Regions from separate parts of the Homo sapiens genome. Here region 1 is linked to region 2. Evidence: fine-mapped expression QTL. A gene starts in region 2. The other region holds a variant in brackets. All regions are shown on one strand. Distances are from middle to middle.

What was found. PIP is the estimated chance that this variant, and not a neighbour inherited with it, causes the effect.
Region 1: its variant is fine-mapped to the expression of FGD2 in whole blood (TOPMed, PIP 0.98).

Annotation. Positions count from the first base shown.
Region 1 is chr6:37,027,716-37,033,091 of GRCh38, reverse strand. It overlaps FGD2 (FYVE, RhoGEF and PH domain containing 2), which reads right to left. Exons shown (of 16, transcript NM_173558.4): 16 at 4,023-5,144. The coding sequence ends at 4,929. Among named protein-coding and RNA genes, the nearest start is that of FGD2, 25 kb to the right of the region's middle. RefSeq lists an enhancer at 3,370-3,449. The variant A/G (reference allele first, on the strand shown) is at 2,596.
Region 2 is chr6:37,002,845-37,008,220 of GRCh38, reverse strand. It overlaps FGD2 (FYVE, RhoGEF and PH domain containing 2), which reads right to left and starts at 2,566. Exons shown (of 16, transcript NM_173558.4): 1 at 2,336-2,566. The coding sequence starts at 2,403. RefSeq lists enhancers at 431-600, 2,421-2,550 and a silencer at 2,806-2,968.

The DNA of each region.
Region 1 (5,376 bases), 25 kb before region 2:
ATCTCATGTGATCTGCCCGCCTCAGCCTCCCAAAGTGCTGGGATTACAGTTGTGAGCCACCACTCCCAGCCAGTCCCCAGATTTTTATTGAGGACTGGCTGTGGGCCAGGCACTGGGAAACAGCAGTGAACAAAAGACCAACTCTCTGCCCTCCAAAAATGGAGACAGGACACTAATCTAAGAAACATAAAATAGAAGCCGGGTGCGGTGGCTCACGCCTGTAATCCCAGCACTTCGGGAGGCCGAGGCGTGTGGATTACGAGGTCAGGAGATCGAGACCACGGTGAAACCCTGTCTCTACTAAAAATACAAAAAAATTAGCCCAGCGCAGTGGCGGGCGCCTGTAGTCTCAGCTACTCAGGAGGCTGAGGCAGGAGAATGGCATGGACCCGGGAGGCGGAGCTTGCCACTCGCACCACTGCACTCCAGCCTGGGTGACAGAGCGAGACTCCGTCTAAAGAAAAAAAAAAAGAAAGAAAGAAACAAAATAGATAAAACGATTTGTATTATGTGAAGCAGAGTCAGGGGCAGAGTTGCCAGGAGCACTACGTGAGGCAGGTGGACAAGGAAGCCTGTCCGAGGGCCAATGAGGCAGAGACTGGAGAGAAGTGAGGGAGTGCATCGGGCGGATTTCTGGAGGAACAGCATCCAGGCTGAACGAGCAGCAGGTGCAAGAGTCCTGAGGTGGAAGTGTGCTGAGGGAGGGAGGTGAGATGGGGCAAGGGAAGGGGGAACTCTGAGAAGCAGCCAGGGGTCATCCCAAAGGGCCTGGTGGAGCACACGGAGGGAGGCATTAGATGGGCTTCTAACCCCATGCTACTGGAGGGCTGGGAGCTGAAAACTAGCTCAGCTTTCAGATTTGAAAGAATCTGTGTGAAGATGCCAGAGGACAAGTGTGGGAGCAGGAAGGGCAGGTGGGAAGCTCTAGCAATCACCCCCAGAGATATCACAGTGGCCGGGCCAAGTGACAGCATGTGAGGGGTATGAGGTGTGAGGACGGGCTCTGTTCGCAGTATATCCTGAAGGTAGAAGCAACCAGGCTTGCGGCCAGAACAAATGGTCCCAGGAAAGCAGAAACGTCCATGAAGAGCATAGCTAGTAACAACTCCCAGCCAGCGAGCTCCGTCTGTGGGCTAGGAGCTTTCCCTGAATTATCTCACTTGGTTTTCACACCAAATCCTACAAAGAGGCACTGCTTGTCAAGTTACAATGAATACATGGAGGCTCAAGAGGTTGGGTGATATCCCCAAGACCCTATGTCAAGCCTTCAACAGAACTGGAATTTGAGCTTTTCAGGCTATCAAGGGGGTGCCCTTTGCATGATATCAGCTGCCCCTGAGATTTGGAAAGTAGTAGCATATTACCTTGCCAGGCGTGGTGGCTCACACCTGTAATCCCAGCACTTTGGGAGGCCAAGGCAGGTGGGTCACCTGAGGTCAGGAGTTTGAGACCAGCCTGGCCAACATGGTGAAACCCCGTCTCTACTAAAAATACAAAATTAGCTGGGCGTGGTGGTGCATACCTGTAATGTCAGCTACTTGGGAGGCTGAGGCAGGAGAATCGCTTGAACCTGGGAGGCAGAGGTTGCAGTGAGCGGAGATCGTGCCACTGCACTTCAGTCTGGACAACAAGAGCAAAACTCCATCTCAAAAAAAAAAAAAAAAGAAAAGAAAAAGTAGTATAAGTAGTATACTACCTGGCACGTATTAGGTACACATAGTAGGTAATAATCATTTGCAAAATACCTACTTTTTTTTCATTTTGAGACAGGGTCTCAGTCTGTCACCCATGCTGGAGTGCAGTGGTACAATCATAGCTCATTACAGACTCAAACTCCTGGGCTCAAGCGATCCTCCTGCCTTGACCTCCCAAAGTGCTGGGATTACAGATGTGAGCCTGTATGCATTTCTTTGTATCATAAACATTTAAAAGGTCATGAGCCCTATACATTCACCAGAATGTCTAAAATTATTAATTTTAAAAAAACAAACTTCAAACCTGACTATACCAAATGCATGAGCAGGGGAAATGTCATACATTGCTGGTAGGAATGCAGAATGGTACAACCAATATGGAAAACAGCTTGGTAGTTTCTGATAAAGTTAGACACTTACTCAGTGACCCAATTTTAGGTATTTACCTAAGAGAAAAGAAAACGTGCTCACACAAACACTGAACATGAACGTTTATAGTTCATAGGAGTATTATTCATAATTGCCCCAAACTGGAAATAACCCAAGTATACTTAACCTGGTAAACAGATGAACAACTGTGGTATGCCCATGCAATGGAATACTACTCAGCAATGAAAAAGGAATGAACTACTGACATGGAGAACAAAATGGATGAATCTCAAATATATAATGCTGAGTAAAGGAAGCCAGGCTTAAAAAGCTATGGTTCCATTTAAATGACATCTGGAAAAGGCAAAATTATCAGTCAGAAACAGATCAATGGTTACCAGAGGCAAGGAGTAGGGGTGTGGGTTGACTACAAAGGGTGGCATGGGGACACTTATAGGGGGATTGTGGTGGTAGCTGTATGACTGTACTCTTCTGCCAAAACTTAGAAAATATACTAATAAGGGTGGATTTT[A/G]CAGTCTGTAAATTACACCTCAGTAAACCTAACAATGACAGCACAAAGGTTGTGTGCCCTCGCTTCCCTCTCCTGACGGCTACCTCATTTTGCTCCACAGTGAAGCCACTCTCCATACTCCCACTCAGATTAAACCCCTGGAAAAGCTTAGGTATCAGTGCTGCAGAATCGACTCTGCTGTCACCGAGCCAGCTGCCTTCAGCATCATTGGCGAGTTTTAAAATGCTGATGCAGGCCAGGTGCAGTGGCTCATGCCTGTAATCCCAGTACTTTGGGAGGCTGAGATGGGTGGATCACCGGAGTTCAGGAGTTTGAGACCAGCCTGGCCAATATGGTGAAACCCCGTCTCTACTAAAAATACAAAAATTAGCCGGGCATGGTGGCGCACGCCTGTAATCCCAGCTACTTGGAAGGTTGAGGTAGGAGAATCACTTGAACCTGGGAGGCAGAGGTTGCAGTGAGCCAAGATGGCGTCACTGCACTCCAGCCTGGGTGACAGAGTGACAGACTCCATCTCAAAAATAAAAATAAAAATAAAAAATAAATAAAATGCTGATGCTGTCCGGGCATGGTGGCTCATGCCTATAATGCCAACACTTTAGGAGGCCAAGGCAGGAGGATTGCTTGAGCTCAGGAGTTTGAGGTCAGTCTGGGCAATATAGTGAGACCCCATCTCTACAAAAATTTTAAAAATTAGCTGGATGTGGTGGCGTGCACCTGTGCTTCTAGATACTCAGGAGGCTGAGGAAGGAGGATAGCTTAAACCCAGAAGGTCAAGGTTCCAGTGGGCTCTGATCACACCACTGCACTCCAGCCTGGATGACAGAGCAAAACCCTGTCTCAAATAAACAAACAAACACCCTACAGGAGGGAAGTGGCCTCAGGTTGGAGGCAGGCAAAGCTGCTGGGCCTGTGATGGGACAAAAACCTGTGACTCATCCATGCTTCCTCCTTTCAGGGCAGAGCCCAGCAATGGCTGGACCTGCTGAGAGCAGCTGAGGGTGTTCTGGCCACTGCTGGGGCCACTGCATGTGGCCTGCTGACCACTGCCACCCCCTGGTGGTCTCTTATGAAAAAGCATCCTCACCCACCAGCGAGGTGGGGATGAGGGGACAGGGATGCTCCTCCCGTCACCCTTCCTCCCACCATTCACCTTTCTCTCTTGTCTTCCCAGCTTCTTCACTCTCTTTCCCTCTCTTTTGCTTCTCCTCACTCTCCTCCCCTCTCTGCTTGTCTTATTGTTCTGCTCCATGATAGAAAGAGCTTTGACCTTAGTTCACCGGGTTAAAACCTGGCTCTGGCATCTACGAGCTACATGACCAATTGAGCCAATTACTAAACCTCTCTGAGTCGGTGTCTTCATCTGGAAATGGGGATAACTCTGGATGGTAAAATGACATAATCCACATAAAACACCTTGCACAGAGCCTGGTCCAATAGATGTTTATTATTATTATTACTACTATCATGACTGGCACTTGACAGGGGCTCAACCATTGGTTGTGGTAGTTTGCTCTCTTTATTCTTCATCCCAGGTAACCCAGGCTATATATTAGACTCCAGTGGGTACTCTTAAAAAATATGCATGCGCCAGGTATGGTGGCTCACGCCTGTAATCCCAGCACTTTGGGAGGTGGAGGTGGGAGCATCGCTTGAGGCTGGGAGTTTGAGACCAGCCTGAGTAACATGGTGAAATCCCATCTCTACAAAAAATAAAAAAATTAGCTTGGCACAGTGGCACACACCTATAATCCCAGCTACTTGGGAGGCTGAGGCGGGAGGATCACTGGAGCCCGGGAGAGCGAGGCTGTAGTGAGCCATGTTTGTGCACTCCAGCCTGGGAAACAGAGTAAGACTCTGTCTCAAAAAAAAAAAAAAAAAGACCCCATGCCTCCCCCAACTCAGCCCATTTAAATCGGTGGTGGTACTTCAGTACAGGCATTGTTTTTTACATTTTTAAAATTAATTTACTATGTGTTTTTCACCAGTACTCTTTAAAAGCTCCCCAGGAGATACAAATGAAAAACCATACTATGGTGACCACCAGTCCGGGGTTACCTGGGGCTTTCCCAGTTTTAGCACTGGAAGTCCCATGGCCCAGGAGCCCCCTCCCCGCAAGGCAAACTGAGACACTTGGTTGTCCCCTTTCTAGAAAGGAATGGACCCATATTTTCTAATCCCAGATCGGGACACGTGGCCTGGGCGCAGATGGCTGAATCAATTCTCTGAAAGCACCACTTGGGGCAGTGGGTCACTGAGGCCACAGGGTCAGTCTGTGGCAGGAGCTGGGTTCAGGGTGGGGAGAGGTGGGCAGGAGAGCGGCTGGCAGTGGCTCAGTCGGACAGGTCCCCATCGTTGGGCCAGCTGGGGCTCCAGCCACTGGCCGCCCGCTCCATGGCCTTCACCCAGCGGCCCTTCAGCTCCTCCGTCTCGGCCTTGAAGGTGTAGAGCTGGCCTGACTGCTGTAGCTGGAAGACCCGAGGGTCCCCCTGGGGCCCAACAGTCACCTGGTAGCCCAGCAGGGGGATGGAGGTGTGAGCCCTCATGTCCTGGGGGGAGGAGAGAGCAGTGGGCCACTGTCCCCTCTCAGTCCTACTGCCCCAGATAGCCATCGTGAAGGCAACAGCCACGCACGCACAGCTCACACCCTAAACCCCCATGGGTTGGGGGTGGGCTGGTGAAGGCCATCGAGGAAGAGGACAGAAGAACTGGCTGCCTCTGAGGGCAAAGCAGTGGTGACCTAGAGTCAGGGCACAATTCTGAAACCTACCAACCTTGAGA
Region 2 (5,376 bases):
CACCCAACGTTGCCCTTGGTGTGGAAGGGCTTGTGATGACAGAACAGGGCAGGCATCCTTATGAGAAAGACAGGCCAGGAAATGGAAGGCCAAACAAATACGAAATCTCCAAAACTCCGTGAGAAAGGTTTTCATTACCCATATTTTGCACTCAAGGAAACTGAGGTCTGGACAGGATGAGTAACATGCGGCTCGGAAGTGGCAGAGGTGGGATTCAAATCAGGCGACTGCTTCCTGAGCCTTCACTCTAACCTGCCCCTCCCCATTTGAGTAAAGGAGAAACAGGTCCGCGGAGTCAAAGTGACTTGCCCCAAGTGACACAATTGGGTTTGTGGCAGCGAAAGCATTGGGACCTAGTGCTGTGTGGCTACTCCCAGGCTCTCCCACCCCTCCCTGGCACCCCAGTCCCTGGTTTCTCAGCCCATGGGTCTGCAGCTCATGGGCGTAGCTGGTTCTCAGGCTTTCTGTTCTACATTTGGTTTCAGGTTCTGCATTTCTGTTCTAGGGCCCCTGGCCAGCTTCTGTTTCCTCTTTGCCCCTCAGTTTCAGATCAGCTGAGGTGCTGGAGACCTCATAAGGAAGCCCAGGCCAAGGCAGTTGGTATGGGTCCCCTCACTCAGTAAGGAGTGGCTCTCACCCTCTTGATGCCTGCTGGGACCTAACTCCCGTCTAAGGGCTGCCCACTCCTGCCAGGGTTATTGCCTGGGCAGAGCACAGCATGCTGAGGGGCTCCACCCAGGTGTGCCTAGTCCACGTCAAGCATGTTGAGTGAGGTGGTACCATCCACCCACACCCAAGGGGGTGGTGGGCCAGGAAGGCGGCACCCAAGAGCTGTCTTTGGTGCTGAACAGGACGAGCTTGGCAAAGATCCCGGGAGAGGCAGGGGAGAATCACCCAGCTCAGGAAGTTGAAGACTTCTAGGTCTACATCTATGCCATCTCCACCCTGAAGCCTACAGGAAACATTGCCTGCCATGAGTGCCCTCAATACAGCATCCGGGCCATTCCTAGGACATCTACTGTCTATGACCTTGCATCATAGTTATTCGATGAGCTCAGCATCCAAATACTGAAACCCTTCTTCATCCTCTACAGTTCCTGTAGGATGCTGTGCTGTGCCACCCATGTCCCTCCTTCAGGAATGAGGCCTCCCCACACCATCCCCACCAGCTACTGGTAGTACTGGGGGCTGCCGGGTAATTTATTGGCTGAGTCCCTCTCTGGGAATCACTCTCTGGAAGAGAGAGCTGCCTCACCCAGAGTCTCTTGTCCAGTCCACATGGAGATACAAATACCCAGCCCTCTTCCTCAGCTGGAACAACCGAGAGGCATCCCAGCTCCAGAGCTCCCTGGGACAGGCTGAGGCCTCTGTGGCAGGTGCACTGCAGTTCAGCATCTCCCCCTGCCCGGCCCTGCTTCCCTCACACCCACAGCTGTTGTTCCCAAAAGCTCTCCCTGATAAATCACCTGAGGCAAACCTCTGTCTGAGTCTATTTCCAGAAAACCCTACCTGGGACAGCCCCTAACACAGTCCTGAGCTTAAGAAATGCCTGCAGAATGGATTGATGCCACACATAACACACAACACACACATACACACACGCGCACACACACAAACACACATGCTCCCAGGGCTACCAATGACTCCACGCATCTGGCCCAGCCTTTTCCCTCCAGACAGACGCCCCAGCATTGCCCCAGATACTTAAAGCACTTGGCATCCTCACCTCTCTGTGTCTCCATTTCCTCATCTATAAGACGGGAACAGAAACAGAATCTACCCCTATTAGGCTGTTCGATGACTAAATTAAATAAGTAAGGACATGAACTTAGAGTAGGGAGTACCCCATCAGGATGCTGCCCGTACATCCTGGTTTGCCTCATACGGTCCCAGCTTTACCTGTAATGCCTCCCCCACAACCACCACATTTTATTTGGCATTTACTTTCAGTTTCAATTGTGTGCTGAATGATAAATTATATGGTTATCCTAATCATAGGGCGTAAATTCTTGGTGAGTATCAGCTACCTTTTCTGAGAGGTGCTGGCAGGCACTGGGTGGGGTCCTGTGCCCACACACAGGCTTTGGTCTGCCCATGCTTGCTCGTAACCACACCTGTCTGGACTCTCCCAACACACACTGGCACTCTCACCCCTGCCTGGCTCCTGGTGTCCCACCGACACTCTCCCATGCTCCAAGGAATCCGTGACCGAGGAACGCGGGGCTGCCCCTGCAGGAGGAGGGTCCGGGGCAGGGCCCAGGGAGAGAGCTGCCAGAAAGGCTGGAGGGTGGCTGCCAGCCCACCATGGTGACCCTCCCACCCCAGCTGCCCATACCTGCTATTCTCAAACACAGTGACCAGGTTGGACACAGATGCCAGCTTCTCCTCACTTGCCCCCTTCATCCTGCCGGTTTCCGGGGTGGATCTCAGCTACCCTCGAAGCAGAGAGAGAGGCCTCCAGCCAGCACACTCAGCCACGCTGGCCTGGGACAGATAGGCTAAATCACCCATGAATCTGTTCTGATCTTTCTTGAGGGCTCAGAAGGTCGGCTCTTGGCTTCAGAGTGAAGAAAGAGGAAGTGGTCCCAGAGCCACAGCCCTGCAGGGGAAAGGCCAGCACTCCCGCAGTGGGAGGAGCCTGCTCGGGCCCCACCTCTCCCTCAGGGGGGCTGACCTTTCACACCTGTAGACCCCCATTCCAGAAGCCACCTAAGAGGTGGCAACAGGGCCCAGAGGTAGCTTCTGGAGCCCAGTCTGGGCTGGTGCAGTGGTTTGCACCTCTAATTCCAGTGCTTTGGGAGGCCGAAGCAGGAGGATTGCTTGAGCCCAGGAGTTCAAGACCAACCTGGGCAACATAGTGAGACACCGTCTCTTAAAAAAAAAAAAAAAAAAAAAGGCCACCCGGAGCCAGACCCTTGGCTGGTTTCTTGGCCTAGTGGTTCCAGCCAACCACACTTTCTCCTTCAGAAGGTCCAGTGGCTTTTACTTGGCCTCTTTCCCAGCACCTTCTTTTCTGCATCTGCCCCTGCTCACAGCTGTAAGGAAATAATGTCTTTTTTATTCTTTAGAGACAGAGTGCGGTGGTGGGATCTCGGCTCACTGCACCCTCTGCCTCCCGGTTCAAGCGATTCTCCTGCCTCAGCCTCCTGAGTAGCCGGGATTACAGGGCCTGCCACCACGCCCTGCTAATTATTTGTATTTTTAGTAGAGATGGGGTTTCACCATGTTGCTCAGGCTGGTCTTGAACTCCTGGCCTCAGGTGATCCTCCTGCCTCGGCCTCCCAAAATTCTGGGATTACAGATGTGAGCCACTGTGCCTGGCCAGGAAACAGCATGTTTTATTTAAAATAATCACAAACCTGGTAAGGGTGGCAGGGAGTACTGTGATGTTCCCACCTCCCCACTGGGGTTCTCTCATTTTAGTTGTTGCTGTCATCACCTCATTGCCCCAAGGGAGGGCAGTTTCCTCCCTGAAACTCAGAGGATAATAATAGCTAACATGCACTCTTTTTCATGCTTATGAGTATTTTCTTATTAATCCTATAACAACCTCATGAGGTAGGTACTATTCCTATCCCCACTTTACATAGGAAGAAACAGAATCAGAGAGGTTAAGTAACTTGCCCAAGGTCACCCAGGAAGAATACAAGAGAAGTTGGATTTCCAAAGCAAAAGTGGGTGTCCTACAGTTCCAGCAAAGGTTCGTTGGGAGCCTGGATGACCATGTTCTTGCTGCTCCATCCCCAGGCCTCCCTGATCCCAGGACACTGGGTTGTCTTTGCCTGAGGCCTCCTTTACCACCTGGTCTCCCGGCCCTTACAGAACAAATGGACGCTGCCTCTGTTCCCCTCCTTCAAGCCCCACAGGCCGTTCAGGGCCCTCCCACTGGGCTCTGGTCCCACCAGGGCTCTCCACTGAACCTGGTCTGTGTCCTGGAGTGCAGGGCCTGAGCCTCGGTGCTCTTGGTACGTGAAGTGCCTGGAACAGCTTCACGCTCCAGTAACTGTGAACCCCTGGGGCCTCACATGCCCAACAGCCGCCCTCACCCCAAGCCTCGTCTGAGTGGTTTCTCCCACCAGATGCCGGGCCCCCTGCCCCAAACCCTAAGTCTCACAAACCTCCATTTTTGTTTTTTACTTTTTATTATGGAGAATTTAGAACATATGCAAAACTAGACAGAATCATATAATGCATCCCATGAACCCCTAATCCAGACCATAACAAACCTCAGCTCACAGCCAGTCCCCTGTCCCTGCTGCAGCCACATCGACTCTGCCTTCTCATGTCATTTTGAAGAAAATCCCAGATGTCAGATGACATTACCCATAAACATTTTAGTGTGTATCTAGAAGATGAGAACTCTCTCTCTCTTTTTTTTTTTTTTTGAGACTGAGTCTTACTCTGTCACCCAGGCTGGAGTGCAGTGCTGCAATCTCGGATCACTGCAATCTTCACCCCACTGGGTTCAAGCGATTCTCCTGCCTCAGCCTCCTGAGTAGCTGGGACTACAGGTGTGTGCCACCACACCCAGCTAATTTTTGTATTTTTAGTAGAGACGGAGTTTCACCATGTTGGCCAGGCTGGTCTCGAACTCCCAACCTCAGATGATCCACCTGCCTCGGCCTCCCAAAGTAGTGGGATTACAGGCATGAGCCACCGCGCCCAGCCAAGAACCCTTTAAATAACTAAATATACACACACATAAATGTATATGCATATATACACATGTATAATAGTAATATTGTTTTATATAGACATACATGTTTTACATGTTATATCCATGTGTATATACATATGAAATAATATTACCGTTATCATACCCCAAGAGATATTTAGCAATAATTCCTCAATATAATTAAATATCCAGAAAACATTCCAAGTGCCAATTCCTTATAAATGTTAAATTAAAAAAAAAAATCAGAATCCAAATAAGGTCCACACATTCCCTGAGCTGTCACGTGGATGAATTCACTTTTCATCCACACGTTCCCCTGGTCCTTTCCGTTTTCCCACACAGCATAGTGGAGGGACCCTGGGTTGTTTGTCCTGTAGGTCCCACAGCCAGGACTTAGCCCATTGCAGCGCCATACCCTGGATTTCCTGTCGATGGTGGTTAGGTCTAGAGGCTCGATCAGAATCACCTTTAAATGCCACTTCTTCCCGATGCCCTCCCTGGCCTGGGGGCGCCTCCCTCCCTGGTGTTCCTCTCCTGGATTTCCTCCTCTGCCTCCCACCAGTCTCTCTGCTCACTGGCTGGCTTGCTCCCTCCACGCAGGGCACACCTGAGTACGTGCACTTCCTGGTGGGTCCCCAACCCCAGCGCCCTTCCCGCATACAGTGGGGCCTCAGAAGGCATGTGGAATGGACAGACATCAC